Linked DNA regions of Homo sapiens: all the other regions are reported to be linked to region 2. The links are microRNA targets in miRTarBase. Many come from high-throughput screens and were not tested one by one. Region 2 holds a microRNA gene; each other region holds the end of a gene's coding sequence.
Evidence for each region. Region 2 holds the annotated microRNA hsa-miR-4789-5p (GUAUACACCUGAUAUGUGUAUG, at 2,961-2,982, shown strand). A microRNA usually pairs through its seed, bases 2 to 8, with sites in the 3' UTR of a target mRNA and lowers its output. Matches are read on the target gene's strand: a 7mer-m8 pairs with bases 2 to 8, a 7mer-A1 pairs with bases 2 to 7 and ends in A, and an 8mer does both.

Region 1: the mRNA of GREB1L is a reported target of hsa-miR-4789-5p. Seed matches in the 3' UTR shown: 7mer-m8 at 4,248-4,254.
Region 3: miRTarBase lists SLC24A2 as a target of hsa-miR-4789-5p. Seed matches in the 3' UTR shown: 7mer-m8 at 3,682-3,688.
Region 4: the mRNA of C1orf52 is a reported target of hsa-miR-4789-5p. Seed matches in the 3' UTR shown: 7mer-A1 at 1,159-1,165 and 8mer at 1,978-1,985.

What each region holds. Positions count from the first base shown.
Region 1 is chr18:21,522,139-21,529,263 of GRCh38, reverse strand. It overlaps GREB1L (GREB1 like retinoic acid receptor coactivator), which reads right to left. Exons shown (of 33, transcript NM_001142966.3): 33 at 3,152-6,606. The coding sequence ends at 6,443. Among named protein-coding and RNA genes, the nearest start is that of GREB1L-AS1, 75 kb to the right of the region's middle.
Region 2 is chr3:175,366,592-175,373,716 of GRCh38, forward strand. MIR4789 (microRNA 4789) reads left to right here and starts at 2,949; the gene lies at 2,949-3,030. The region is part of intron 5 of NAALADL2 (N-acetylated alpha-linked acidic dipeptidase like 2); the gene reads left to right.
Region 3 is chr9:19,509,530-19,516,644 of GRCh38, forward strand. SLC24A2 (solute carrier family 24 member 2) reads right to left here. Exons shown (of 11, transcript NM_020344.4): 11 at 1-6,873. The coding sequence ends at 6,624. All of the region lies in intron 4 of LOC105375988 (a long non-coding RNA gene), which reads left to right. Among named protein-coding and RNA genes, the nearest start is that of MAP1LC3BP1, 50 kb to the left of the region's middle.
Region 4 is chr1:85,246,220-85,253,344 of GRCh38, reverse strand. It overlaps C1orf52 (chromosome 1 open reading frame 52), which reads left to right. Exons shown (of 3, transcript NM_198077.4): 3 at 643-3,392. The coding sequence ends at 716. Among named protein-coding and RNA genes, the nearest start is that of C1orf52, 9.9 kb to the left of the region's middle.

The sequences.
Region 1 (7,125 bases), not on the chromosome of region 2:
TTGTGCTTTTTCAGGGTGTTTTTTTGGTTTGATATCTTGAAATATGATTAAAACATTGGCTTCCTAAAGGCAGTTTCCACCAGTTTGCCAAAGGATCATTGTGTCAGCAGCAAATCAGCTGAACTTTATTTCCAAAGGCAAAATCCTTTCTGATTATTTTAGTAACATAGTACTTTTATGATGTTGCAAATAAATGAAGGGCCCACAGCCCAAGAATGAATTACCACTGTGGTTCAACTTAGGTTATTTTTGTGAGCTGAAATGATCATATCTCAGTTGAAAACTGGCTAAAATTTAGGGCCTTAAATTAACAGGTATACATTTTATTTCCCTATAAATTTTTGCTTTTACAATTTCTAGGCCAGGCGCGGTGGCTCACGCCTATAATCCCAGGACTTTGGAAGGCTGAGGCGGGCGGATCACGAGGTCAGGAGTTCGAGACCAGCCTGACCAATATGGTGAAATCCCGTCTCTACTAAAAATACAAAAATTAGCTGGTTTTGGTGGCATGCACCTGTAATCCCAGCTGCTCAGGAGGCTAAGGCAGGACAATAGCTGGAACCTGGGAGGTGGAGATTGCAGTGAGCAGAGATTGCACCATTGTACTCCAGCCTGAGCAAAAAGAGCAAAAAACTCCACCTCAAAAAAAAATTTTTTTTTCTAGAGTGGTATAAGACTCTACATTTTGTATGGGTAGAATGATAGGGCACGGTAAATATTTCCCCGTGATTCATCAAGCTGGTCTAGCTTTTTTTTTTTTTTTTTTTTTTTTTTGAGACAGAGGCTCACTCTGTCACCCAGGCTGGAGTGCAATGGCATGACCTCAGCTCACTGCAACCTCCACCTCCTAGGCTCAAGCGATTCTCCTGCCTCAGCCTCCAGAGTAGCTGGGATTACAGGCACCTGCCACCACGGCCGGCTAATTTGTTTTTGTATTTTTTAGTAGAAACAGGGTTTCACCACATTGGCCAGGCTGGTCTTGAACTCCTGACCTCACGTGGTCCACCTGCCTCGGCCTCGCAAAGTGCTGAGATTATAGGTGTGAGCCACTGCACCTGGCCCTAGCTTTTGATACTGTCATTTCCCTTTGGGCTTGAGACTGTTCTAGTCAATCCTGGTCTCATTGTTTGCCTGACAGGTACCATGATTTAAAAAAAAAAAAAAAAAACAGAATGAAATTTTGGGATATAGTGTAGACTCTCTAGTAACTGTTAATCCCATAATACAGGTCCAATTTCCATAAACAATAGTATACTACTTTGACTACTTTTGACTTGGTTTCAAGGTGACCTGGAGGTGGAAGAGGGTATATTGGGTGGTTGGTTTATATGTTATTATTACTGAGAAACCAGTTTATTTTCATGTTTATACTGAAGATATAGCCTCCCAAATTTTACAATTTAGGTATTTCTCTAAGAATAGTATTATTAGTTAATACCTAACATTTGAGTGTTTGCTATGTGTCAGACCCTGTGTGTTTAGTCCTGCATTATTTTATGTAATCATTACGACAGTCCTATGAGGTAGGGTTTATAATTGAGGAATCTGGAACTTAGATGATAATTAAGAGCCGTTTGTGTGAAAAGTGTTGAAACACTGAACTAAAGCTGTGATGTGGAGATGAAGACGAGACAGATACACATTGAAAAGATAAAATTGAAGAATTGACACAGTTGAATTGATAGGAATTTATAAACAACCAGAAAAAGATCATGGCAAAGAGGTTAAGGTAAGTGGGAATTTTGGTTTGGGTAATTGAATTAGATTGACAGATGGGAATACAGGGGAATTAGGTTGGGAGGATTGGATGGGGATGTCCTCAGTTTTGGTCAAGATTTTAAGGTGGTTGTAGAAAGAGTCTCTTAAGTGGAGAAACCTTTTAGTATACAATTGGATATGTGAATCTAGAGTTTCAGAAAGGTTCTAACTGAGAAACAAATTTATGAGTTCACTTATTTATTTGAAGGTTCACAAGGTCACCCTGGGGTTTGTAAAATGAGAAGGTAGAAGAGAGTTGTGAGGTACACCATCATTTAAGAGTCTCAAAGAAGACTGCCTAAGAAGGCATGAGCAGCAAGGTAGGAGAGCCAGAAGAGAGTGGTAGAAACCAAGGGAAAAATGTCAAGAATCAAAGAATGATCAACCCTGTCATACCACAGTTGAAGACTGAAGAGAGCCCAAGTGATGTTAGGAAAAGAGCAGTCTCAGTGGAGTGGTGGAGGCAGCAGGGACACGGTGAGTGTACACTAATGGCCACAGACTGTAGAAGAGGGTGAGTCTGTAATTGCTGACTATATAAAGGTGCTTATAGATTTTTTGTTAGCAGCCCTCATGTAGTTGTTGGTTGTTTATAAAAATATCTAGCATAGAGACATGGTAAGAGCCACAAATATAGTCAGGAACTACAAGATTTTATGGGCGATGCTTTTATCTGCATGGACACACAGATAAAAAGCAGTATTTTACTACTTCATAATATGCAAGAGTGAACTTGGTTTATCTACTGAAAGCCTGACTGTTGTAAGGACAGTCAGTGAGTACAACAAACCTGCAGTGTTATTTTAATTGTTCTTGTTTACTTTGCACGGCTGCCCAGCTATAGAGTCTTATCCTTCTGGATGGGAACACAGCTGTATTCCTGCCCATCCACATTGCAGCTAGGGTTGAGATTGCTGAGTGAGTTGATTTCTAGGGTAGTGACTCTAGACATACATTTTCTTTCTCATGGCTCCTGAGTCTTTAGGCAGAAAAAGGGATGAGTTCTGTCTTTTAGCAACCCCCCACCCCCACCCTTCTGGTAAAAATAAAATACACTGGACTAGTAAAAATAAAATATGTGGAATGAAGTGGTCAGAAAAGAACTTACTGGTGTTGCCTTTTTTTTTTTTTTTTAACTTAATACCATCATCTATTGTCATAGTCACTGAAGTAGATGCTTTAACTCAACAACACTTGATAGTTGAGAGCACAGTGAATTTATTATGTGAATGACTTTTTCTTTGGCCTTAGCGGCAATTCCTAAAGTCATCTTTAGCAGTATTTTTACTGTTGTTGTTTTGTTTTCAGTGAAGCCAAGGTTTCAGTGTTAGAGTAGTATTCTCCTAGACTCAGAGGAAGCTTTAAGGGCCAATTTCCAGTTTCTGTGTCTAAAGAGAAGCTTGATAAATGTTCGTTCTCTGGATGTTGTTTCAGGCCTAAGTAGTTTAGTGTGATGTTGCAGCAGTCAGTTTCACAGTTAATTAATAGTCTTTTCAAGGCAGCTGCTTTGGAATGTATAGTGGAACACCAGTAGTCTTTACTTTCCTCTGAAAGTCTGTCATTACACTTACAAATATTTATTGCCCTTCCTGAGGGTCCTTTGGCCTAGAAGATTGTTTTCATGGAATCTATGTCAAATTCTTTTAATTTACTACACTTTATTAATAGATTGAAAGCCATTTTTCTGGGACAACAAAGTTGTTATTCTCAAAAGTTGGTAAAATTTTTTAAGAAGATATAATTCATACTACAATAACAGCATCTTCATACTACATAGTTCTAGCAACTTTGAGACACTCTCAAAAAGTTTGAGAAGTTTTAACTGGAGATTAACAATAACAAACACCTTGTATTAGTTTTAGCAACCCAAAGTTGTTCTGTTTCCAGAAGGACATCAAAGTGAGTGTAGTTGCAATCTGTCAAATAAAAGATTGGTATCTACTATGTATGTTTTCAACACCTCTTTAATCTTGGTTGTCCAACCTATAATGTGACTGACTTCCAGCCTTTTTAGGACATTGCCAGAGTCAGGGAGCTTGTTTTCTTAACAAACATGCCAGAAAACTATAAAGAAAAAATAACTTTTTGGAGGGGGTGGGAGATAACTTTAATACATTAAGCAAATTAAATCAAAGGACAAAAATATAACAGTAGACACAAGACAATTTTGAATCATTAACAAAATGTGAGGTAGACTAGTGAAATTCACCAAATTTTGGTTAAGAACATTTTACAGTAATAACACGGGTGCCCCATTTTCTAAAAATCACAAAAAGCAATTGCATAAATTACAGCCAAAAAAAATTATAACAATTGTCTTCTAGTTTTTCGTTTACATTCAGTATTAACCTGTGTGAACTGTCATACATGCTGAGGTTCAGCAGGTCTACAGGTGAGTTACTGTGTGGGCCTAGCGAATCCATTCATCCCACATCAGTGTCCTAAGGGATTGCAAAGCTTAAAGCTGAACACACTAGGATATATATATATATACACACAAATCATGGTGTCCTGTGCTTGTGCAATTTTATCCTTAAAGAAGGACCTAACATACTCAAGAATTATACTGATGATAAGATGATTTTAAAAGATCCAAACATTAGTAAGATAGGCTTTGAAAAGAATAGGCAGATCAATTTCTCCATTATAGGGGTGATGGTCTTTTGGCTTTATTCTGGCATATCTCTTCCAGAGTTAAATAGTATTTAAGAGCTCATAATAATAATTTGAATTTTCAGAGTGCAGCCCTAACTAATGGAGTACCTGCATCTGATGTAACTACTTAAAAAAAAAGTTCTTTAAACTATGAAGTCATAAAGCCAGAAGAAACCCTGAGAGGCCATCCACCCCAGGTACAATTGTTTCAGAATTCTTTCAAGTATTTTATTTGCCCTATGTAAATGTTATTGGAATATTGCACAGACAGTGGGTTTCTTGGTATTATTTGCATTAGGCCCTTTCAACAAAACAGGAACAAGTGAAATACATTCATATTTAAACCAAATTGCTTCAAAACATACCTCTTTACCAAAAATTCTGCTGTACTAAAATTAAGGAGTATTTTTTAAAGCATATATAAGGCAGGTCCTCTTTGAAGGACAATTAAAAATGGGGTTAAAAGGAATTGTTCACTTCAAAATACAGTTAAAGCATTATAAGTAGCTATATTAAAACCAAGAGATCTGCAAACCATTTTTAGTCTAATACATTCCATTTTTTCACTAGCTTTGTAAACTCCTTGTTGTCATAAGATAATAAAGCTGGTCAATTAACACTATTTGTTCTAAGTAAATGCAGGCTTAGTAGGCCCCTCAGTAGTTTCAGGTCACAAACAAGATTGATTCAAGTAAAAATGGCCATTTTAAGTGGGGATAAAGTAGTAAATATGGGCTAATGAGAAAACTCTCAAGAGATTGTTCAATGATGAGAACTGGAGTAATTTAAGAGTAAACTTCTAAGACTTAGTTTTATCTAGAACACTTTCTAAAAATAATGTTTTTGATTAAAATATTTGAGAAATCTGTAGAAACATATGCCTCCCATTGCCGATACTGGACAAACACCCCCTGCTGATTTTAATGAATCAAAAAGACTCTTAATGGAGTCTTCCTTACTCCTCACAAGAGTCACTGGTAAGATTAAGTAAAAAAACATTTCTCTTTCTATGGCTCAATTTCCCAATTCGGCAATTTCTGTGGCGTTGTCAGTGTAAGGTGGTAATATTTAGTGCATCTTTTAAAGGAAGCTTTGCTTGAGTCCCTGAAAGGAAACAAACTAGTTTCACTCTGCAACAGAACCTCAGCCTGACATTTAGGTTTGCTGGTGCCAACTGCTTAATTCCAACCAAACGGTGGGTGCAGGTTACCTGCTGAAAGCTTCTTAACTGACTTAAGTTCTTGCAAAAGATTAATCACTGTTCCATAGTCTCATAGATAAGATATTCTTAAAGACTGGAAACACATTTAAAGAGTGGGTAAAGCAAAGGAATTAGGCTAGGAGAAGATGCATAAATGCACACAATGCCTGCTCTGCATTTACTGATTTGTTTGTTCAGTTTAAATAGTAAACTTCTAACTCCTGTGGAAATTTTGCCAAAAGTTTCAATACATAGAAGATTATAAATCTTAAACTAACACTGCACAGAGAAAGACAAAGCTACTTCTTTTTTTAAATACAAATATCGTCTACATTCTATCATTTCAAACCCCTGAGTAATACTGTACCAAAGTACAGATCTGAAGAGAAACTGAGGGTTCAGGCCTCAAACGTTAATCTTCAATTGATTCCACACCAATGGCATGAGTCTCATGTAACACATTCAGGCTAGTTAATCCTGACAGTCAGTTTCCCCCTAACATAGTAATAGAAAAAAATAATGCAAACTCCATATTCACTCTCCAAAGTATATCCTCCTCAGGATCCCATGGGCAGACCGTATCTTAAGTAATTGCATAACTGCCTAGGATAGAGTTTACCTGAATTTAAGGGTCCTGTAATTGGAACTGAAGGAAAGTGATGTCCCCAAAGACCTGGATCAGATTTGGGGAGTTCTTTGGAGAATTTAGACAAATATGTTGCACTTTGCTCCACAGTGATTGTACTTTAAAGGAAAAAGAAAAATCCCAAATTGTTTCTGTCCCATCCCACCTAGGCATCTTTTTGCTGTTTTGGTCTCTTCAAAAGCTCATACATGACGTCCAGTAAGAAAGTAGAGAGGCTTGTCATCACTGCTGTTAGCAGTTTGAAACTCGTCCCGGAGGCGGAACTGCCACTCATCTTCTAGCTCTAAGCGGACAATTGTTTGGCGCAAGGAACTTCTGTCTTGGCAGATGACACACAGTGTAGCACCTTCAGGAAAAAAGACAGAAATATGTCCTAGGCTCAGGGATTGAATTTATAAAGAACTTTATCTCTGATTATATTTCCTAAGCTAACACATCTGAGAACCAACAGATGGATAAGCAATCTATCAGAATTGTTTTATTTTATTAAGTAGTTTTGCAAATTCAGTAATTTTTTTTGTTTCTTTTTTTGAGACGGAGTCTTGCTCTGTCTCCAGGCTGGAGTGCAGTGGTGCGATCTCGGTTCACTGCAACCTCTGCCTCCTGGGTTCAAGCAATTCCCCTGCGTTAGCCTCCCAAGTAGCTGAGACTACAGGTGTCTGCCACCAGGCCCAGCTAATTTTTTTTTGTATTTTAGTAGAGATGGGGTTTCATCATGTTGGCCAGGATGGTCTCGATCTCCTGACCTCGTGATCCACCTGCCTCGGCCTTCCAAGGTGCTGGGATTACAGGTGTGAGCCACTGCGCCCAGCCCAAATTCAGTAATTTTTAAGAGTATAAAGTAAGTAATCTTCCAACCACATTC
Region 2 (7,125 bases):
CATTTCTCTGATGGCCAGTGATGATGAGCATTTTTTCATGTGTCTGTTGGCTGCATAAATGTCTTCTTTTGAGAAGTGTCTGTTCATATCCTTCGCCCACTTTTTGATGGGGTTGTTTGTTTTTTTCTTGTAAATTTGTTTGAGTTCATTGTAGATTCTGGATATTAGCCCTTTGTCAGATGAGTAGGTTGCGAAAATTTTCTCCCATTTTGTAGGTTGCCTGTTCACTCTGTTGGTAGTTTCTTTTGCTGTGCAGAAGCTCTTTAGTATAATTAGATCCCATTTGTCAATTTTGTCTTTTGTTGCCATTGCTTTTGGTGTTTTAGACTTGAAGTCCTTGCCCATGCCTATGTCCTGAATGGTAATGCCTAGGTTTTCTTCTAGGGTTTTTATGGTTTTAGGTCTAACGTTTAAATCTTTAATCCATCTTGAATTAATTTTTGTATAAGGTGTAAGGAAGGGATCCAGTTTCAGCTTTCTACATATGGCTAGCCAGTTTTCCCAGCACCATTTATTAAATAGGGAATCCTTTCCCCATTGCTTGTTTTTCTCAGGTTTGTCAAAGATCAGATAGTTGTAGATATGCGGCGTTATTTCTGAGGGCTCTATTCTGTTCCATTGATCTATATCTCTATTTTGGTACCAGTTCCATGCTGTTTTGGTTACTGTAGCCTTGTAGTATAGTTTGAAGTCAGGTAGCATGATGCCTCCAGCTTTGTTCTTTTGGCTTAGGATTGACTTGGCGATGCGGGCTCTTTTTTGCTTCCATATGAACTTTAAAGAGTTGTTTCCGATTCTGTGAAGAAAGTCATTGGTAGCTTGATGGGGATGGCATTGAATCTATAAATTACCTGGGGCAATACGGCCATTTTCACGATACTGATTCTTCCTACCCATGAGCATGGAATGTTCTTCCATTTGTTTGTGTCCTCTTTTATTTCCTTGAGCAGTGGTTTGTAGTTCTCCTTGAAGAGGTCCTCCACGTCCCTTGTAAGTTGGATTCCTAAGTATTTTATTCTCTTTGAAGCAATTGTGAATGGGAGTTCACTCATGATTTGGCTCTCTGTCTGTTATTGGTGTATAAGAATGCTTGTGATTTTTGTACATGGATTTTGTATCCTGAAACTTTGCTGAAGTTGCTTATCAGCTTAAGGAGATTTTGGGCTGAGACAATGGGGTTTTCTAGATGTACAATCATGTTGTCTGCAAACAGGGACAGTTTGACTTCCTCTTTTCCTAACTGAATACCCTTTATTTCCTTCTCCTGCCTGATTGCCCTGGCCAGAACTTCCAACACTATGTTGAATAGGAGAGGTGAGAGAGGGCATCCCTGTCTTGTGCCAGTTTTCAAAGGGAATGCTTCCAGTTTTTGCCCATTCATTATGATATTGGCTGTGGGTTTGTCATAGATAGCTCTTATTATTTTGAGATACATCCCATCAATACCTAATTTATTGAGAGTTTTTAGCATGAAGCGTTGTTGAATTTTGTCAAAGGCCTTTTCTGCATCTATTGAGATAATCATGTGGTTTTTGTCTTTGGTTCTGTTTATACGCTGGATTACATTTATTGATTTGCGTATATTGAACCAGCCTTGCATCCCAGGGATGAAGCCCACTTGATCATGGTGGATAAGCTTTTTGATGTGCTGCTGGATTCGGGTTGCCAGTATTTTATTGAGGATTTTTGCATCAATGTTCATCAAGGATATTGGTCTAAAATTCTCTTTTTTGGTTGTGTCTCTGCCTGGCTTTGGTATCAGGATGATGCTGGCCTCATAAAATGAGTTAGGGAGGTTTCCCTCTTTTTCTATTGATTGGAATAGTTTCAGAAGGAATGGTACCAGTTCCTCCTTGTACCTCTGGTAGAATTCGGCTGTGAATCCATCTGGTCCGAAAATAGTTACATTTTACAAACGAATCTCTAACACATTTTGGTATCTTTTTTTATACTTTGAAAGGACTGTAGCAGGTGTGTGTGAGTGTGTGTGTGTGTGTGTGTGTGTTTATAGCCAGTATGTATATATGTAGCAAATACGTTCATGTGCCATTTAATAATGGAGATGCTTTCTGAGAAATGCATCATTAGGTGACTTCATTGTTGAGAGAACATCATAGAGTGCACATAACACAAACACATTGTGTAGCCTCCTAAACAACTAGGTTATGTCGTATAGCTTATTACTTCTAAGCTACAAACCTGCATAGCATGTTATTGTACTGAACACTGTAGGCAATTACAATGCAGTGGTATTTGTATATCTAAACATATCTAAACACAGAAAAGGTACAGCGAAATATGATATAAAAGATTAAAAAAAATTGCCACCCCTGTATAGGGCACTTTTCATGGAACTTGTGGGAGTAGAAGTTGCTCTGGGTGGATCTGTGAATGAGCAGTGAGCAAATGTGAAGGCCTAAGACGTTACTATGCATTACTGTAGGCTTTATAAACACTGTACACTTAGGTTACACTAAATTTGTTTTAAAAATTAAGTAATTGCACTAATGTCACAATGAGAACAATGCCACTAGAGTTTTTCAGCTCCACTATAATCTATGGAACCACCCTCATGTATGTGATTTGTTCTTGAGCAAAATGTCATCATGCAGCACCTGACTGTATATATATGTAGCAAGTATGTGTGTGCCTGTGTGCGCGTGTGTATATATAAATGTTACATTTACATACACCTGATATGTGCATGTGTAATTATATATGTAACAAGTATGTGTGTGCCTGTGTGCGTGTGTGTACATATACATGTTACATTTACATACACCTGATATGTGCATGTATACATATATAGGTAACAAGTATGTGTGTGCCTGTGTGCGTGTGTGTACATATACATGTTACATTTACATACACCTGATATGTGCATGTATACATATATAGGTAACAAGTATGTGTGTGCCTGTGTGCGTGTGTGTGTATGTGTATATATACATGCTACGTATGTATACACCTGATATGTGTATGTGTAAATACATATCCACACACATAGCAGGTGTATATATAGGTAGCCTGTGTGTGTGTGAGTGCATGTGTGTGTATGTGTAGCAGGGGTTTTGTGTTAGAACCAAGAGCTTGGAACTGGTACAATGAAAATATTTTGCCTGAAAGATATGCTTAGTAAAAGTCCCAAGTTTCACACATTTTTGAGGCTCAAAGTGAAGAACTCAAAGTGAATTATTAGGTAATCATATCTACTTCTTCCTAAACCCTTCATCTGATTGTGTGCTAAAATTTAATACTAACTGATCTTTCCATCTCCATAAAATTCTTTGAGATAACAAAATCCTACATTCCGGTTTCTGAAGGATGGTATTCTGCAAATGTGAAAGTTTCCCTTAACCTCCAAAAAATAATTGGGTTAATCCAGCTACCACAAGTGTGAAATTGAGAAGCTGCTTGCTAAGATTGAATTTAATATTGTCACATGTCATCTGAGAGCTGCTTGTCTGATCATGTTGCCACTGGACAAAGTAAGCCTTACTACAAAGGATAAAAGAATGATTATTTCAATATCCAGTCATAGTTCATCATCAAACTCTGAGTAAAATGGAGAAAAAAAGACGTTTTATCTTATATGACTCTATGCATTTCTCTGGGAAGTCATTTATCTGGTTGCTATCCAGGAGAGCAAAGATAATGGGAAAAATCTTCCACTATTCTCAACTATAATTTTAAATATCAAATTTTAATAAAATAGGTTTTGGTTATTTCTTTTAAAAGCCCTCAATATAAGAAAATGAAATGTTAGAAACTTATTTTATAAAATATATTTGTGAACCATAAAACCCCATATAAAATGGAAATTATTATCACCATTAACTACTGATGCTTCTAATCTTATTCTGTAATGGTTAAAAAATGACTAGAATTTAGAGTTACTGCCAATATATGGGGGGGGGAGGGATTTTATAAAAATAGCTTTATTCATTTGCATGTTAAGCAAGAGTGTGATTACTGATGGCCGTAAGAGTCACTTGCTGCTTTAAGCTCTGCTCTGCTGCTGACTCTACATGTGTAGCTTTGAGAGGTCCTTTAGCCCCTCCAGCTTTCCACATAGGCAGGATGTGGCTATTGTACTTGATGATATGCCAAACATGCTTCTGATTCCAACATTCGATGGTTCTGTGATATTTCTACCTTATTACAAAAGACATTCACTTTAAAAGTATAAACACCGTAGTAACTTTTTTTCTTTCATTGTTTTCAATAAAAGGGTAATGGAAGTAAACTGACAAGTTTAGGAGGCTTTCAGAGCATAAAGGAGAAAGGCTGGCAGCTCTTGAGAACCTCTTTGCTTTCAGCTGAGAGCAAGTAGAGAATGCTTGCTCTCTGGCCCTGAATGTCATAACATTATGTTCAGAATCATTGAAATGTCTGACAACACTGTTGATTAAAAATGAGAATCATTAGGCCATGTCTGCCGTTATAGGATGAAGGGTAGTTTGAACAGTATGGAAAAAAACTATCCCAAAAGGATGATTTGTCTTAGACAATATTACCAAAATTTCAAATTATACTATGTATAGTAATTTGCAGTAATTCACTTTTTTTTTATATTTAGCTTCATCTTAAAAGTTCTCCTTCATTGGTAATGCTTTGAAAAATGCTGGATTTAGAATTATGAAGAGACTATCAACTAATATTATGGATGATATTATTATTATTATTATTTTTTGAGACGGAGTACTCGCTCTTTCGCCCAGGCCGGACTGCAGTGGCGCTATCTCGGCTCACTGCAAGCTCCGCCCCCCGGGTTCTCGCCGTTCTCCTGCCTCAGCCTCCTGAGTAGCTGGGATTACAGGCGCCCGCCACCGCGCCCGGCTAATTTTTTGGATTTTTAGTAGAGATGGGGTTTCACCGTGTTAGTCAAGATATGGATAATATTATTTAGAAACCATTCTGTGTGCTACAAAAGTCCTTTGAGAATGATATGAGCTGGGCACGACGGCTCATGCTTGTAATCCCAGCTCTTTGGGAGGCCAAGGCGGGTGGATCACCTGAGGTCAGGAGATCAAGAGTAGCCTGGCCAAGATGGCGAAATCCCGTCTCTACTAAAAATACAAAAATTAGCTGGGTGTGGTGCAGGGGCCTGTAATCCCAGCTACTCAGGAGGCTGAAGCAGGAGAATCACTTGAACCCAGGAGGCGGAGGTTGCAGTAAGCCAAGATCATGCCACTGCCCTCCAGCCTGGACAACTCCATCTATTAAAAAAAAAAAAAGATAACCACTAAAATGGCTATTATTCATCTTTCAAAATCTGTAATACCTGGAAGTTCTGCATGACCTTTAGGAAAACTACATCCACAAAGCGTTCCTTCTAGTTTCCTAATAAGTTTTAGAAGAAATATTGCCATTCTGAGCTAAACTAGTTCTACTTCCTTAGGGCAAATTCCTACCATAACATGAAATAGACAAATATAATTACTCTAAAAAAAGTCCAGCCATAGCATCTTAGAGTTTAAAGGAATAACCCTTAGGAGTTCACAAAATTTTTTTTCCACTGCTTCCTAGGCAGACCTCATTTAGTGTAGCTGGCGTGTTGCCCTGCAGACTTTACTGAACTGCTAGTACAGGAGTCGCTATGTTTTTAGCTAGCCCATTCAGTTTTTGTAAAGCTCCATCATTACATTTTTCATCATACTGACCTAATACCTAGCTATATTTAGCTTGCTCACGCTCTGCCTTCTGGAGCGAAAACATGCATGTCTGTGCATTCTCTATATCTACCTAGTATCAGTTAGAGTTTCGTGTTTTCCTTCATGTAACAGAAAACTCATTAACAGTGGACTTCTCCAAATACTTCTCTAAATATTTTTCTCACAAAATGAGAAATCGAATGAAGCGTTGGTGTTAATTCAGTGTCTTGAAGATATTAGACCCAAGCTCTCTGTCTTTTCCTCATGGTTGCTGATAAAGGCTGAAGCTATAGTCATCATTGTAATATTCCACTTGGAGAAAGAAGAAAGGCACATGCCCACTAAGGCTAACTGATCTTTTAAAGGGTCTGTTCTTAAAGTCCTGACCAACATATGCCTCATTGGCCTTAACTAAAATGGGATTTGATGAAATACATTTTATACCTGGGCACGTTGCCATACTCAATAGAATTGTAATTCTATTAATGAAGAAGTAAGGAAAAATTGGGGTAGTATCCAGCAGTTTCTGCCACACTAACCTTGCAGTATTTTAGGATGGCTGTAAGATCCCAACTAAGTTTTCCCTTTCTCTGGCTAAAAGCAATTCCAGTTACCTTGAGCATTCTTTTTGCCATCTCTCATTATGAGCATCATCATCTTCCCAAAGTGAAGTGCTTTCTTAAAATATGTTAGAAAGAACAGGACATAGTATTACGTTTGTGGCCAGACAGTGGTCATACTGTCTCCTGATCTGTACTTAGTGTGTTTTTGTTCAGGCAGCCTCAGAATGAGGAATAATTTTGGTAACTACTTGGCTGCAATTGAACATGCAACCAATCAAAGCCATATGAAATTGTTTTACATGGAATGAATTGAAGCTCAGATTTCCCTGTTCCATATTAATTTTTTGTGAAACATATTGAGAAGTAACTTAAATATAAAAAAAAGCACCCAATTAAATGTAAAATTTGTTGAGTTTGGCCAGTGTAAACAGTTGTATAATCATGACCACAAACAAGATACAAGGAACGTTTTTAACACCAAAAATTTATCTTATGTTCCTTTTCTGTCAATCCACTGCCACCTAATCTAGTCTAACCGCTGATCTAATTTGCATTAATAAAGATTTATTTTGTCTATTCTAGAACTTCTTATCTATGGACATATGTAGTAATATGTCCTGTAGTAATATGCCTGGCATTTTTTGCTCAGCATGTTTTTAAAATTCATCCATGTTGTGTTTATCATTAATTTGTTCGTGATTATTGCTGAGTATATTCTATTTTATGCTCATATCAGTTTGCTAATCCATTCTTTTGCTAATTGTCATTTGGACTGTTTCCAGTTTGAAGCTATTATGAATCAAGGTAATATGAATGTTCACGTACAAGCCTTTTTGTAAACATAGATTTTCTTTTCTGTTAGCAAATATGCAGGAGTGAAATTGCTAGGTCACATAGTAAGTGTATTT
Region 3 (7,115 bases), not on the chromosome of region 2:
GAAGTACTATAAAGTGCAATATTAAAAAATTAAAAAACCCAAAAGGCATCCATTGTCCTTCAGTTTTATTCTGATAAGAATTGGGGATTTGTTTAATTAAATGGCAAGAAGTTATCTACCCTTAATTTATGCATGTAATTTCATCCTTAAAATAATTTTATTCAGGATTTCAGACTTTTTTTACTTTTCTGTTTTTTATGACATGATTTTAAAAATTAGTATTTTCTTTTGGTTAGCTGAGTATTTTGGAGAACTGTTAGTCTCCAAGGCCTTAGTTACTTATGGATCCATTATGAAGGAATATGCAACCCAATATGTAAGAATGCAGAAACAAATTCCCATCCTTTTGGTGAACCCTGGCCCATGAGATCAATCAGTAGCTTTACAAATCCTATCCAACCTACCACACAAAAGGATATAAACACACTGCAGTACTGGTTAATAAGTGGAGATCCAATCATTTATCCCAGTTTCATATTTAAAATAAAAATATTGATTCCTCTTGATAAATTAGTGGGTAAGTACAGGCCCAGAGTTTTGGAGTAATCTAAAGTGGTGTCTCCCCAATTTTGAGTTCTTTGTGAGTCTGAGATTATGACCTAATGACCTTAAAAGCAGTTTGTGACCTTGACTTCACCAGAGCTTCATGGTCATGCTGCACCCAGTATAGTTCAACACTGTTCAGACAGTGATTATCATTAGTCATAAGGTTCCATCATTTAAGAACAATATAAAGAACTTAAAAAGGCTTAGTAGAGAGGAACTATAAAAATTATTAAGAGGGTTAAAGACTCAAATAAAAATCTAAAGATAATTTTAATTGAAAATAGGTAAAGAGTCACATAGCGGTAACTTCCAACTATGGGGCAAAGAGTGAAGAGTGCCCAGATGCAGTTACTTTTTGCCAAAAAAAAAAAAAAAAAAAAAAAAAGTTAAGTCATTAAGTGGATGGGTTTGGGTTAACTTGGAGGGAGGCTTTTCTTGATGCTGATGGTTGTTAATCATTGAGCTGGGTCACACCAGCATCTATGCTGGGATCTCCCCCGTAAGAGGACTGTCCTTTGGATTAGCGTGATAGGCTAGACAAACCCTCTTAATGGAATTAAATCTTTGGTGGAAGCCTAGGCAAACTCCATGGCATTCTTTCAGACTTAGATATTTGTCTGTTTTTAAAGATTTTATTAGGTTTTCCAGTCTGTCAATGAATGATCTGGTAGAAGTGCTTTGGCTTAGATAATATGGTGCTCTACACAGTCCCTCACTGTTCGTACGCTAATTTGAAAACAGTTGCCTAGCCTGTCGTAATTGCAGGGTCATTTTTGCCTCTCGAATGCTGCCTGACTTGTGGATTTGCTTGTCCTTTGTAGCTGCTTCTTACTCTTTCTTAAGAAATCTGTCCCTAGCCATATTAAGGGCCTCTGTGGAGTTTGGGTGGTTCTGAGCAAGGCTGGTGCCCCATGTGTGAGGAAGGCATGCAAAATGCCAGTGTGTACATTAGCTGGGGGGAGTCATTGTGGAAAACAGATTCCTTCCAGAGCAAACATGAGTGTGCCTGTGATTTCTACAGACGACTACATGCTCCGGGTGATTACATGCCACAACCTGCGCAGGTCCAAAGCTCCTGGTGAAAAAGGAATATTGCCATGGTGTAATCATAAGTAATAGAGTTGAGCTGGCTGTGAGTAGTTCCCTTATTGCTTTTCTTGTTTGCTATATATTTAAAAAATATGAAGCTCTGAGATTAAAAATGAAACGCAAAGACAGAGGCAGAGGCAGAGTCAGGGAGCTAACAGTAAATAGAAGGTGGAATAGGGCAGGGTTACTTTTCTTACCCAAGGTCTTCCTGAGATTATTTTTTAAAAAAATCTAAAACTGTATATGGGCTCTTGTAATTGGCTAAACATAGCCTGATATTTGTTACTGTTTTAAACTACATAGGGATATATTTCCACGTGACACTTGTTTTCTTGGAATCCTAGGAAATTAATATCTCCTTTCTTCCCTTTCCTTATTATTCTATTTTTTCTCCTACCCCTCTCTTAATGACAAGGCCTTACCTAATAATTGAAGACAGTATTGTTGAGACAGGTATAGGGGTTGAGGAGGTATCTTTTAAAAATATTAAGCCGGATCGTTAAGGAATATGTGGCTTAGCAAGAGTGAGCACTGACTTCTATGCATGCTTTCAGGAGACAGTAGTTTTCTCCAGAAATCACCCTGAGAACAGCTTCACTTTGTTTCTTCTGGAACACAGCTGCCACCTATAATAGGGCCACCTACTTACCAGAAAAACAATCTGTCCAGGTGCAAGGAGGCATAGCATCCACATAATCTCGCGTGTGTGTGGGGGTGTGGGTGTGTGTTTGGTAGATGTGGGGAGGAAAGCACACTGCCATGTTCTGAAATGCCTGCCATCAGACCCATGTTAGATAGTCCAACGCAGTAATTTCTGCAGAGCATTTAATGCAACTTCCATCTTCTTCAGCTCTATCTGGCCAGCCACTCTACCAGGTGTCTTTTCTTTGGTCAACTTTTTGTTAAAGTGGTCTGGGGGTGGGCTCCCTTTGTAGCTCATCTCTTCTCTCACTGTTCCAGAGGCCTTTAAAAGCTATGTGCAGTGGTGGGGAGTTTGCCAACTCTCTCCCTGCCCAGGAATGGATGTACATTAACATTGTCAAATGTCTAATCAGCGAGGCAGCTGCGTTTTGCTGAAAGGGCTCCAAACCACCTGATTCATGTCTTCCCTATAAAATAAATTATGATGGCCCTTGTCAGGTGACACCTGTTAGAAGCCTTACAAAGCATTTTTCCTGAATATAAAACAGTCTCCGCCTCTTTTTATAATCTTCTGGGCAAGGCTTTAGGACATTCTGCTGCATCTGCCGAGGGTATAAACAACCCTATCCCTTAGTCCCTGCATATATCATTGCTCTGTCACTGCCTGACTCAGTTTAGGTCCTGGGAAGCTGCATAAACACCATCTGATCTTCAGCTTCAGTTCATCAGGATCTGGTCAGGTGCAGAGGGCAGCTGGAGTTGGCATGGGCATTCTCAGATGCAATTTAGGAGTTTCTATTTGGGAATTGTCAGTTTGAGCCAAGCTGCTCTGCTGCCTTGGAAGTATGGGGGAGGGTAGGCGGTGACAGCAAGCAAGACCTGCTCGGTTTGCTGTGAATAAATGAAATCATTTGCGTGCAACTCATTTATTTTAGATTGATTAGTACAATGTTGGCTCTTGAATTGTTGATATCTTTTATACCCTGCTCCAGAGAAGCAAAGAGAGTATCTGCAGTCTAAATTTTTGCTTTGTATTTTCTGTTGTGTATTCTTTGCCTCTATATCAGCATTAGGGATATGGCTGACCGATTTCCTTAAGGCTATAAATTGATATTCTTAGGGTGGGAAAATATGGGTACATATGTGTATATTTGTAAATATATGTGCATGGAACAAACAACCTTATGAAATCAGGAAGAAATGTTCCCTTTGGTTTGTGTGCATGACTTTCCTTTTCCTTGACTTTGGCAAACTTGATGCTCCCTGCTTTAGAATCCTGAATGTGATAGGGTCAGAGGGTGATGATGTAAGTCATATTATATGTGTACATATAGATCTGGTATAAAGATATATATATATATATATATATGTATATATATATATATGTATATATTTATATATGTATATACACAGGCATGCAGGAAACGAGTTAGAGATGACCTGTTTTGGAAACCACGGTGTGGAAAGTTCTTATAATTATGCCAATGATTTGAATGGTTTAAAGACCCATTGTTGAACTCTGTACACATCTCTCTGAATTTACCCTGGCTCAACACATAACCACTTACAGACACAGAAATGAAGGGAAAGCAAGGGCAGGCTGTGGAATCACTTGTGTCCCATCCAGTGAGGGAGCAGTGCTGTTGTAGGTCAGGCTCAGTGCACATGACTGATGTGGGAACGGGGCTTGGAAATTTTGTCTTCTCAAATGCAACTTCACATGAAAGACCACAACACTTCCTGTGAAGTGGAGCTCCGAGACAAGCAAAGGGCACCATAGCTGCTTTGATCAGCCTTCACTGTAAGCTGGGAATAAATGGGAGGGAGTGAGGAGGCAGAGGGAGGATCAGGAATAAGAAGAGGGCGGCATCAGGTCTCCTTCAACTTCTGTTTTACATGGTCTGTTTGCAGTTGAGTCAGTCACCTATTTAAACCTTATTTCAAACAACGCACCAGTCAATAATATAAAATTCACACAATAACCAACTTGGTTGCCCTTCAAGAAATACACAGGGAAAACAACTGGAGTTTTTAAACGTAAAGTTCACTTCCTCATTCTTTCACTCTCTAAGGAAGCAGGACAAATTCTTGCCCCAGTACAAAGTCCTGACCTTGATGAATGAGATTCATTCCCATTAGGTGGCAGGTTCCACTCAGCGCCTCTATTGGATGGTGTTTCAATGTCTTGGAAGGCATTGTCCCACATCTGAAGACCCCAATCTGCCGAGTTGGAGAGACTTGAAAGCCAGCCTCCGACTGGCAGCCATCTTGATTTCTTGTTTTCCCAGGGGGCCTCGGGTTTGAAGTGCTTTTTACTTCTGGGTGAAGAGGAATGATGGGCATTTCCTGTTATTGCCATGCTCTGTGGGGTGAGCTGAGGTTTTCTGGAAGGAATACTGAGCTTGATCTGGGGCTGTCAGGTTACCTTTCCTCTTATTCTGCTGTGAGTTCTGCATCCTGTCCTCTTATGTTAAGAGGTATGTGCTCACAACAAAATCATAGCAGGCGTCAATGACAGAATAGATTGGAGATAGGAACACATATGGTGAAATTTCCCATATGCCATATGTACCAACTTAGACGTAGGATGGGTACAGAATAATGAACCATCCTTGATTCAATTTTTCAACTGATTTTAAGGAAAGCATGACTTGGAGAAAAGAAAAGTGCTCTACATAGTTTTCCATTGATTCAGTTTGCCTATTTTTTCCCCCTTGCTGGCTTTATTTTCGACTGACATAGATCTGAGAAAACACACAAGGTGTCATACAGAACTTGGGGGCGTGGAATATTTTAATTTCATGCATTCAATGTAATGTTGAGCAAAATCAAGAAATCAAATTGTTGGAGTGAATAGCTTGAAACCAGTATAAGGAAGCTGTCAAATACCGTGTACTCTAAAACTTAGACAGAATCCCAGATAAGGTCTTGATGGAAGAAGAGACATAGATGTTACAAGAACTTTAACCAAAGCCTGGTCCTGGTACCACTCGACCTGGCACTCAGAAACCTTCCTGGGGTGCACTGAGTGTGCAAATGCCTTTCCAAGCATCGCTAAGTTGCCTCAACCCAAGCAGTGCTGATCAGAGTTAAGTTAGTGCTATTGGGAATAATGATTTCTTCAGACACTAAAGCCCTTTATGACTACACTGGAAAACGTTTTAAAGAACTATGCCCTTACATCCCATTAGGTGGCAAGGCCCACTAAGCACCTTTACTGGATGACTTCTTATTGCACATCTAGGCTCTCTTGGCAGCCCTTAGCATCAAAATATATCTACATGACAATCACAGCTAAACTTACCCCTCTTCTTTTGATGATAATGGGACATGCGCTGGAAAAATACAGGTTCAGTTTATATAGTCTTGCTGTCCTAGAAAAAGCACTAATTTGGTTTGTAGTCATATTTTCTACTTGCATGCTGGGACAATATAAGAACAAAACAAAACAACCCAACCCTGGTTACCTCCCCACTTCCCCAAACCAAGCCACCCAGCCTGGGTTTTTACCTCTTTCTGTCCTAAGTACCCTGAGTTTCTTGGTCAGGGTACTCTGGTGGAGGTGGGCAGATAGTCTCTCTGTTTGGCTTGTAGGAATGTTTTGGAAGGCTCAACTCAGGGCCCCTACAGACCTTCTCCACTAAGCCCTCCTCCCTGCAAGCTATTTCCCTAAACCATCTACCTTACTAGGCAGGATCACAGCAAGTCCAAGGTAGGCTGAAGGTCACAGCAATGCTACCTTTGTCTTGTTGGTTCCATTAGTTCACCTCTTGTACTTAAGAGGTAAAGCCCAGACTGCAAGTTGATGCCCCTCTTCAAATAAGTACTATAAATATACTAGAGCTATCCCTGAAAAGATGCATTTGTACTTTTATATATATCTGATTTTATATATATATATATAATTTTTCTTTGTCTTTATTTACAGGTATGTACTAATCTATAGGTATGCAAGGAGAGGTATAGTACAGGAACAGGCAGGATTTGTGTGTTCATGTGCGTATATTTATAATATGTGTATTTATAGATATATATAGCCTGTGTCCTTGTTTGCATCGACTGTACCTCCGACCAGCGAGGTGTACTTGTCAGTGGTGAATAGGGAGAAGCCCTGTATTGACGGTTCTCTTTGTCTTTTACATGAAGTCATTTCAGTAGGCAGGGTGGAAGCAGCCTGTGAAGTGAATGGGCCCAGTGTGAATCCATCTCTCCTCAAATTCACCAAGGAGGGACACTTGGCACCCAGGGCTGTGTGCCAGCTGCCTCTTCTCAAGAGGTCAAGGAGCCCAGAGCCCAGAGTGTGGAGGGACCATTCATGCTGCTGGTGCAAGATATGGCTTTTCCTGCTAGATGGAGACGGGGCATGTAAGAATTCTGTCTTCTAGGAGAACGCTCACCACCAGGAACACAAAGTAGAGGCCAAACATGATGAAGCCCAGGATTTTGTTCATTCGCCACTTGCAGAGGGCGATAGAGAGGATGACGAAGAGCAGCATGATGAAGAGAAGGACGATGGCACAGAAAAGGCCATTGCTGCTGACAGCCACTGGCTGGAATCTGTGAATGACGGTGTACAGGAGCCAGGGCAGTGGGAGCCTGTGCAGAAGTGAAGCAGGGCAGAGGGGAGTGGGAAGACAAGGGAGTAGTCAGACACGTTGAAGAAGGCAAATATAACCTATTATTACCTTCTCAGGAACTCTAAACTGAAAAGGGTGTCTTGTTAGGTTCACTATGACTCGGGCATGGTTGGCCCAGGAAACCACTTTATAAGGAAATAAGACTTTAAAAACCTTTATGTCCTGACTGAATTCAGAACAGGGAGAACAGTTAGACAACAT
Region 4 (7,125 bases), not on the chromosome of region 2:
GACAGCTGATAGCCACTTAAATAATGTCATCGTTAGAGTGATACCTATTTTTTGTAAAAAGAAAACAATATGCTCCATTCTTACAAAGCATTGATTGTATTTTAATATATACAATGTAAATACTATCATGCAGTGGTGTCCAAGGGAGAGAATACAGTCATGAGTTCTTAGTTTCTGTTATTGGTTGGGCCAATAAAGCCCCTTCATCATCCTTCTTTTCTGCTTATCACTAGAGACAGAAACTAAAAACCATGGCTTCAGGCTGCTAAAAGCCTAAAACAAAACAGAACAACAACAACAAATAAGGCAGGTTGGACAAGCTTGCTGAGTATTTGGGAGCCTTTTTCAAAAGTCTGATTTGGGGGAAGTAAAGTCACTTATTTTAAGCTACCTTAGTATAGCACCTAAAGAGTTACTTTGTGAATTTTGTATGGCTGCAATTGAAAAAAAAAATTGCTCACTTTCACTTGCATTTAAAAATCAGAGCTCTAAAAGTTAATTCTTGTTTTTTATTGGGAAACTCTGAGAGAAACATTAATTGATGAGGGTAATAATTTTGGTATAAAGCCAGTGAAATTTTAATGCTTAACATGTTGGGTTTTTTAAAATTACTGATTGAAACTCTTCCTTTTCTATTTAAAGATGATGAAAAAGATGAGCATACTTCTAAAAAGCGCAAAGTAGAGCCAGGAGAACCAGCAAAGAAGAAAAAGTAGAAACAAATGACCAGAATTTCTGTACTGCTAAACTTGTTGAAATGTTTCTTTGGACAGATTAAGTTGATATTGTGGGTTATTATGCCACATCTCCATGAAAATGCATACGTTAATGAACTAATAAGTATTGCCTCAAGAACTTTCCACTATAGAATTCTTTTTTTATTTAAAACATGTATGTATTTAAAACTCAACTGGTGACTTGTGATTGTGAAATTGATAACACTTGGATGCATTCTTGCTCTCACAGAATTGGTGACATGCTTTGAGAGTTTTGTCACATGTTGACATGCCAATGTTCTTATAAACCTTTTATAAAGGAATATATTTTTAAAGTAAATATATTGTAATGTACTGTGAACTTGTAGGGTGCTTTTCAACAGTCTTTGTACAGTGTAAATAGATCATGGAAATAAAATTACTTATTCAATATTACTATTACTGTATAACATTAACATTTGAATGTTTGTCTGTGACAAGTACCCTATTTGTCGTGTGACATTTTAAGTTGTAATAAGAAGTATTACCATTTAAAGAGTGCCTCCTGTGTTCCAGGTGCTTTGTGCATATATTTTCTCTGATCCTTAAACAACCTAGCGCAAGGTATTATTAGTATTCTCATTTTATAATAAAGAGTGCTTGAGTAGCTTGTCTGATGTTACACAGCTAGTGAGTGGTTCATTTGGAATTTAACTTGGGACACTTGAACCTCAAAATCATCACATTAAACCACCTGTCCACCAGTCAAAATTTAGTCATCTTTCAGGAATGACATCAATTGTCATCTCTTCCAGGTACTTTTTTCTGTTGTACCTGGAGATCCGTTAGTAGAGATCTTTTCCTCTCCTGATTGGATGACTGTACTTGTCATCTGTGCTTTATGGTTATTCATTAATTTCTTTATTAAATTGTAAGTTTACAGGACATTCAGTTAAATTTGAATTTCAGATAAATAATGTTTTAGTATATTTAATATTCAGGACATATACAAAAAATGTGTTTATCTGAAATTCAAATTTAACTGAACATCTTTTATCTGGTAACCCTACTTCTACATGTTTTCTCTACCCAGCTTCTATTTTAATGCTTTGCGTATAGTAATAATAAAATGAACAAGAAGTAGTTGGGAAGGTGTGATCGTTGAGTTCCAAAATGCAGTTATTTGTAGCATTTTGAACAATAAAAAGGTTACACTCTGCATCAATCTTTCCATGAATCTGAAGCCCTTAAGAGATAAGAATTACAGAACAGTGCACATTCAGTGTATAAGAACAAGACAGCCAAGCATGGTGGCTTATGCTTGTAATCCCAGCACTTTGGGAGGCCAAGGTGGGAGGATAGCTTGAGGCCAAGAGTTGGAGACCAGCCTAGACAACATGATAAGACCTCATCTTTACAAAAAATAATTTAGAAAGAAAAAGACATAATCTAAGTATTTTTTTTTAAATCTGTTTTTCCCCATTGTGGAAGATAAAATTTGAACAATTACGCGAGATTTGTTTACCTAGGCATGTGTATCAAGTAGATTAAAATTCATAAAAGTCATTAAGAGTGATTGCATCAGCCATGGTGCTTTGTGGAATGAAGGTCCATAACAGCATGATGGCTTCCAGTATATCATCGAGTTTAGAAAAACCAATTCTATAGCTGCCCATCCTCCAGGTTTGCAAATATATGAATCCCAAAATTGAAGTAATTGCTAAAGCAAGAATATGTTTTTTTAAGATTGTAGTCTTTGTAATGAATTTGGAAATCTGTGGTATCATATACTAAGGAGTGGCATCAAGTGACAAAGCAAGACCATAGTATGTACATGACACCAAACACAACCAAATCAAGTTATATTTGTGAAGTTGTGATTCCCAAGCTCTGGAGAAATCTAAAATTTGGATGCATGTGTTGGTGGAGCAAATATCTCAGAAGTTACTGAAATATTGCAAGGTTCTTAAGTTAGCATGAAAGCAAACTTTTTTCTCTCTTTCCTGGGAGATGTGCAGAGTATGTTGTATGAGGAGGAAGACAGGACTTAGGGAAGAGGCTAAATATTTTGGAGCAAGTCTGACTCAGCCATTTGTATCTCCTGGTTGGAAAACGGACTGTCATATCACTCTACATTCATCATCACATTAGAGAATAGATTATTTTCCCCTTTAGAGATGTCCTGGGAACGTGTTTGCACAAGTGTCCATGTGGGTACTGAGGTGAAGTTTGGTTGAGCTAGTGGAAACCTAGTGGGGAAAAGTCTTAAAAATCCATATACATAAGAAAAATCATCTGTCCAAGTATCTTTCATTTTAGAGAATCGAGTCACTTGATACTTCTGATTGTTTCCTGCACTTTAAGTTAAGCCTGGGCAACATGTTGAGATCCTGATCTGGTTTGGCTGTGTCCCCAACCAAATCTCACTTGAATTGTAATTCCCACAATTCCCACGTGTCATGGGTGGTGACTGAATTATGGGGGTGGGTCTTTCCGGTGCTGTTCTTATGATAGTGAATGAGTCTTACGAGATCTGATGGTTTTAAAAACCATCAGTGCAGGGAGTTGCCCTGCACAAGCTCTCTGCCTGCTGCCCTCCACATAAGATGTGTCTTGCTCCTCTTGCCTTCTGCCATGATTGTGAGGCTTCCTCAGCCATGTGGAACTGTAAGTCCAATTAAACCTGTTTCTTGCAAATTGCCCAGTCTCTGGTATGTCTTTATCAGCAGCATGAAAATGGACTAATACAGTTAATTTGTACCAGTAGAGTGGGGTACTGCTGAAAAGATACCCAAAAACGTGGAAGTGACTTTGGAACTGAGTACAAGGCAGAGCTTGGAATGTTTGGAGGGCTCAGAAGAAGACAGGAAAATATGGGACAGTTTGGAACTCCCTAGAGGCTTGTTGAATGGCTTTGACCAAAATGCTGATAATGATATGAACAATGAAATCCAGGCTGAGGTGGTCTCAGATGGAGATGAGGAACTTGTTGGGAACTAGAGCAAAGGTCACTCTTGATATGTTTTAGCAAAGAGACTAGTGGCATTTTGCCCCTGTCCTAGAGATTTGTGGAACTTTGAACTTGAGAGAGATAATTTAGGGTATTTGGTGGAAGAAATTTTTAAGCAGCAAAGCATTCAAGAGGTTACTTGGATGCCATTAAAGGCATTCAGTTTTATAAGGGAAGCAGAGCTTGAAAGTTCAGAAAATTTGCAGTCTGACAATGCCATAGAAAAGAAAATCCCATTTTCTGAGAAGAAATTTAACCTGGCTGCAGAAATTTGCTTAAGTAATGAAGAGCCAAATGTTAATCCCCAAGACAACGGGGAAAATGTCTCCAGGGCAGGTTAGAGGTCTTCACAGCAGCCCCTCCCATCACAGGCCCAGAGGCCTAGGAGGAAAAAGTGGTTTTGTGGGCTGGACCCAGGATTCCTGTGCTGTGTGCAGCCTAGGGACTTGGTGCCCTGTATCCCAGCCACTCCAGCCATGGCTGAAAGGAGCCAACGTAGAGCTCAGGCCATGGCTTCGGAGCATGCAAGCCCCAAGCCTTGGCAGCTTCCATGTGGTGTTGAGCCTGCAGGTACACAGAAGTCAAGAATTGGGCTTTGGGAACCTCTGCCTAGATTTCAGAAGATGTATGGAAACAACTGGATTCCCAGGCAGAAGTTTGTTGCAGGGATGGGGACCCTCATGGAGAACCTCTGCTAGGGCAGTGCAGAAGGGAAATGTGGGGTTGAAACCCCCAGAGTCCCTGCTGTGGCACCACCTAGTGGAGCTGTAAGAAAAGGGCCACCATCCTCCAGACCCCAGAATGGTAGATCTACTTACAGCTTGCACCATGCGCCTGAAAAAGTCACTGACAGTGCCAGCCCATGAAGGCAGTGGGGATGGAGGCTGTACCCTGCAAAGCCACAGCGGCAGAGCTTCCCAAGACCATGGGAACCCACCTCTTGCATTAGCATGACCCAGATGAGAGACATGGAGTCAAAGGAGATCATTTTGGAGCTTCAAGATTTGACTGCCTTGCTGGATTTCAGACCTGCATGGGGCCTGTAGCCCCTTTGTTTTGGTCAGTTCTCCCATTTGGAATGGCTGTATTTACCCAATGCCTTTACCCCCATTGTATCTAGGAAGTAACTAACTTGCTTTTGGTTTTACAGGCTCACAGGCAGAAGGGACTTGCCTTGTCTCAGATGAGACATGGGACTGTGGACTTTTGGGTTAATGCTGAAGTGAGTTAAGACTTTGGGGGACTATTGGGAAGACATGACTGGTTTTGAAATGTGAGGACCTGAGATTTGGGAGGGGCTGGGGTGGAATGATATGGTTTGGCTGTGTCCCCACCCAAATCTCATCTTGAATTGTAACTCCCACAATTCCCAGATGTCATGGGAGGAACCCATTGGGAGGTGACTGAATTATGAGGGCAGATCTTTCCCGTGCTGTTCTCATGCTAGTGAATGGGTCTCATGAGACCTGATGATTTTAAAAATGGGAGTTGCCCTGCACAAGCTCTTTTTGCCTGCTGCCATCCAGGTAAGATGTGACTTGCTCTTTCTTGCCTTATGCCATGATTGTGAGGCTTCCCCAGCCACATGGAAGTGTATGCCCAATTCAACCTCTTTCTTTTGTAAATTGCCCAGTTTTGGGTACGTCTTTATCAGCAGCATGAAAATGGACTAATACAGACCTCATCTCTACAAAAAAATTTAAAAATTAGCCAGGCGTGGTGGTGCACGATAGTAGTCCTAGCTATTGGGAAAGGCTGAAGCAGGAGGATCACTTGAGCCCAGGAGTTAAAGGCTGCAGTGAGCTATGATGCACCACTGTACCCTGGCATGGGTGACAGAGCAAGATCCCATCTCTAAAAAAAAGAAATAAACCATATCAGGCATGAATGGCTTTTTGTACAGGGTAATTTGAGAAAATAACTAAGCATATGTGGGCCATGTTTTAAAATTTGAAGTGTAAATAGCTTCATAGAGTTTTATGGGAAACATTCTAACTGGAATCAGAAAAATATTACTGATTCAACTGCTTTGGCCAAAAAAAATTACTGAGAAAATTGGCAATGCGTTTTCACCATTAAAACACTAAGATCTGGACTCAGTTGTAAACTTGCAACTTTCTAATCTTAAAATTTAATGCTGTGTAGTGCTTTTGAATTCACAAAGTTTAGTCACATAATATTTTAGTTTCCAAAAATCCAATTAGGTAGGTTTCATCATTTTCAAATTGTGGAATGGAAAATAGGCCTAGTGAGCTGACATAGTGTACCCATGGATGTACAGTGTGTTAGCTTCAGAGAAGAGAGGGATGGAGAAACTGGTAGTGCTTAGTTGGATATAATAGCTGAGCATGAGGCTTTCTTTTATTGCTAATTATATTTTTAAATTTAAAATATGAATGGATTAATGCAGGTTTGAACATAATCTACATTTAAAATATGTCACACAAGTTAGGTACAAAGCTCTACCAGAGACATTTGAAACCTCTAAGTATTTTTACAGGTCTATATAATCCGAATAAATGCAGCAACTCAATTTGATTAAGTCAAAAACTGACTAATCTGAATTCATAACTGGACTTTAAAACATGGGTGGTATTTTGGAATTTTAGAATTTTTATCCATACTGTACTGCTTCCCTATGTCACCCCTCCATTTCATAATAGTACAGAAGTTTCACATATTCCTACAAAATCGTGTTAAAATTCCCAGCAAATGTTTTGGAATTTGCATTACATTCTAAAGTTTTCTCTCTTCATCTTCCTCCACATAGATAATTTTTCCAATTTTTTGAAGCATTGCCTTTCAATGAAAAGAGAGTGTGGGGAGATACCAAGAGGCATTTGTGTGTTCTGTCCACAGACAAGGGACTTTTTGCCTGTTTTGTTCATTGACTAGAACAATGCCTGGCACATAGTAGGCACTCAATATGACTGCTAAATGTTGCAAGTAAGCTGAATTCCTCACCCCTGGCTTAGGGTTGATTCTCATTTGTCTTGGTATAATGCTATCCCCCCATCCAGAGGCTTGTGTTTTCAGTTATATGGGCCAATATGTCTTATTAACAATGTAAACAAGTTTGAATTGGGTTTTCTGTCATTTTTCCACTAAAACCATCAATTAGTGCAAAACTGATTTACTCTTTTGGTTTCTTCCAGGGCTCCATGCTATTCTGGTTCTATTTTCTCTGGTTCCTTCTCTTCCAACTGCCCCTGGTTGCCAGTGTAGTCTACATTGTTATTCTTCTCATTCTCTACCCTTGTTCTTGAAGATTTCAACCAAGTTCATGGCTACTACAATCAGTAACACTTTGATGATCCCCTATACTGTATGGCTTGCCAGAGTGCTCTTATAAAGCCTAGATTTGTGTATCCAATTGTACATCTCCACTTGGTTCTTAAAGGTCCCTCCCATACTGTATGT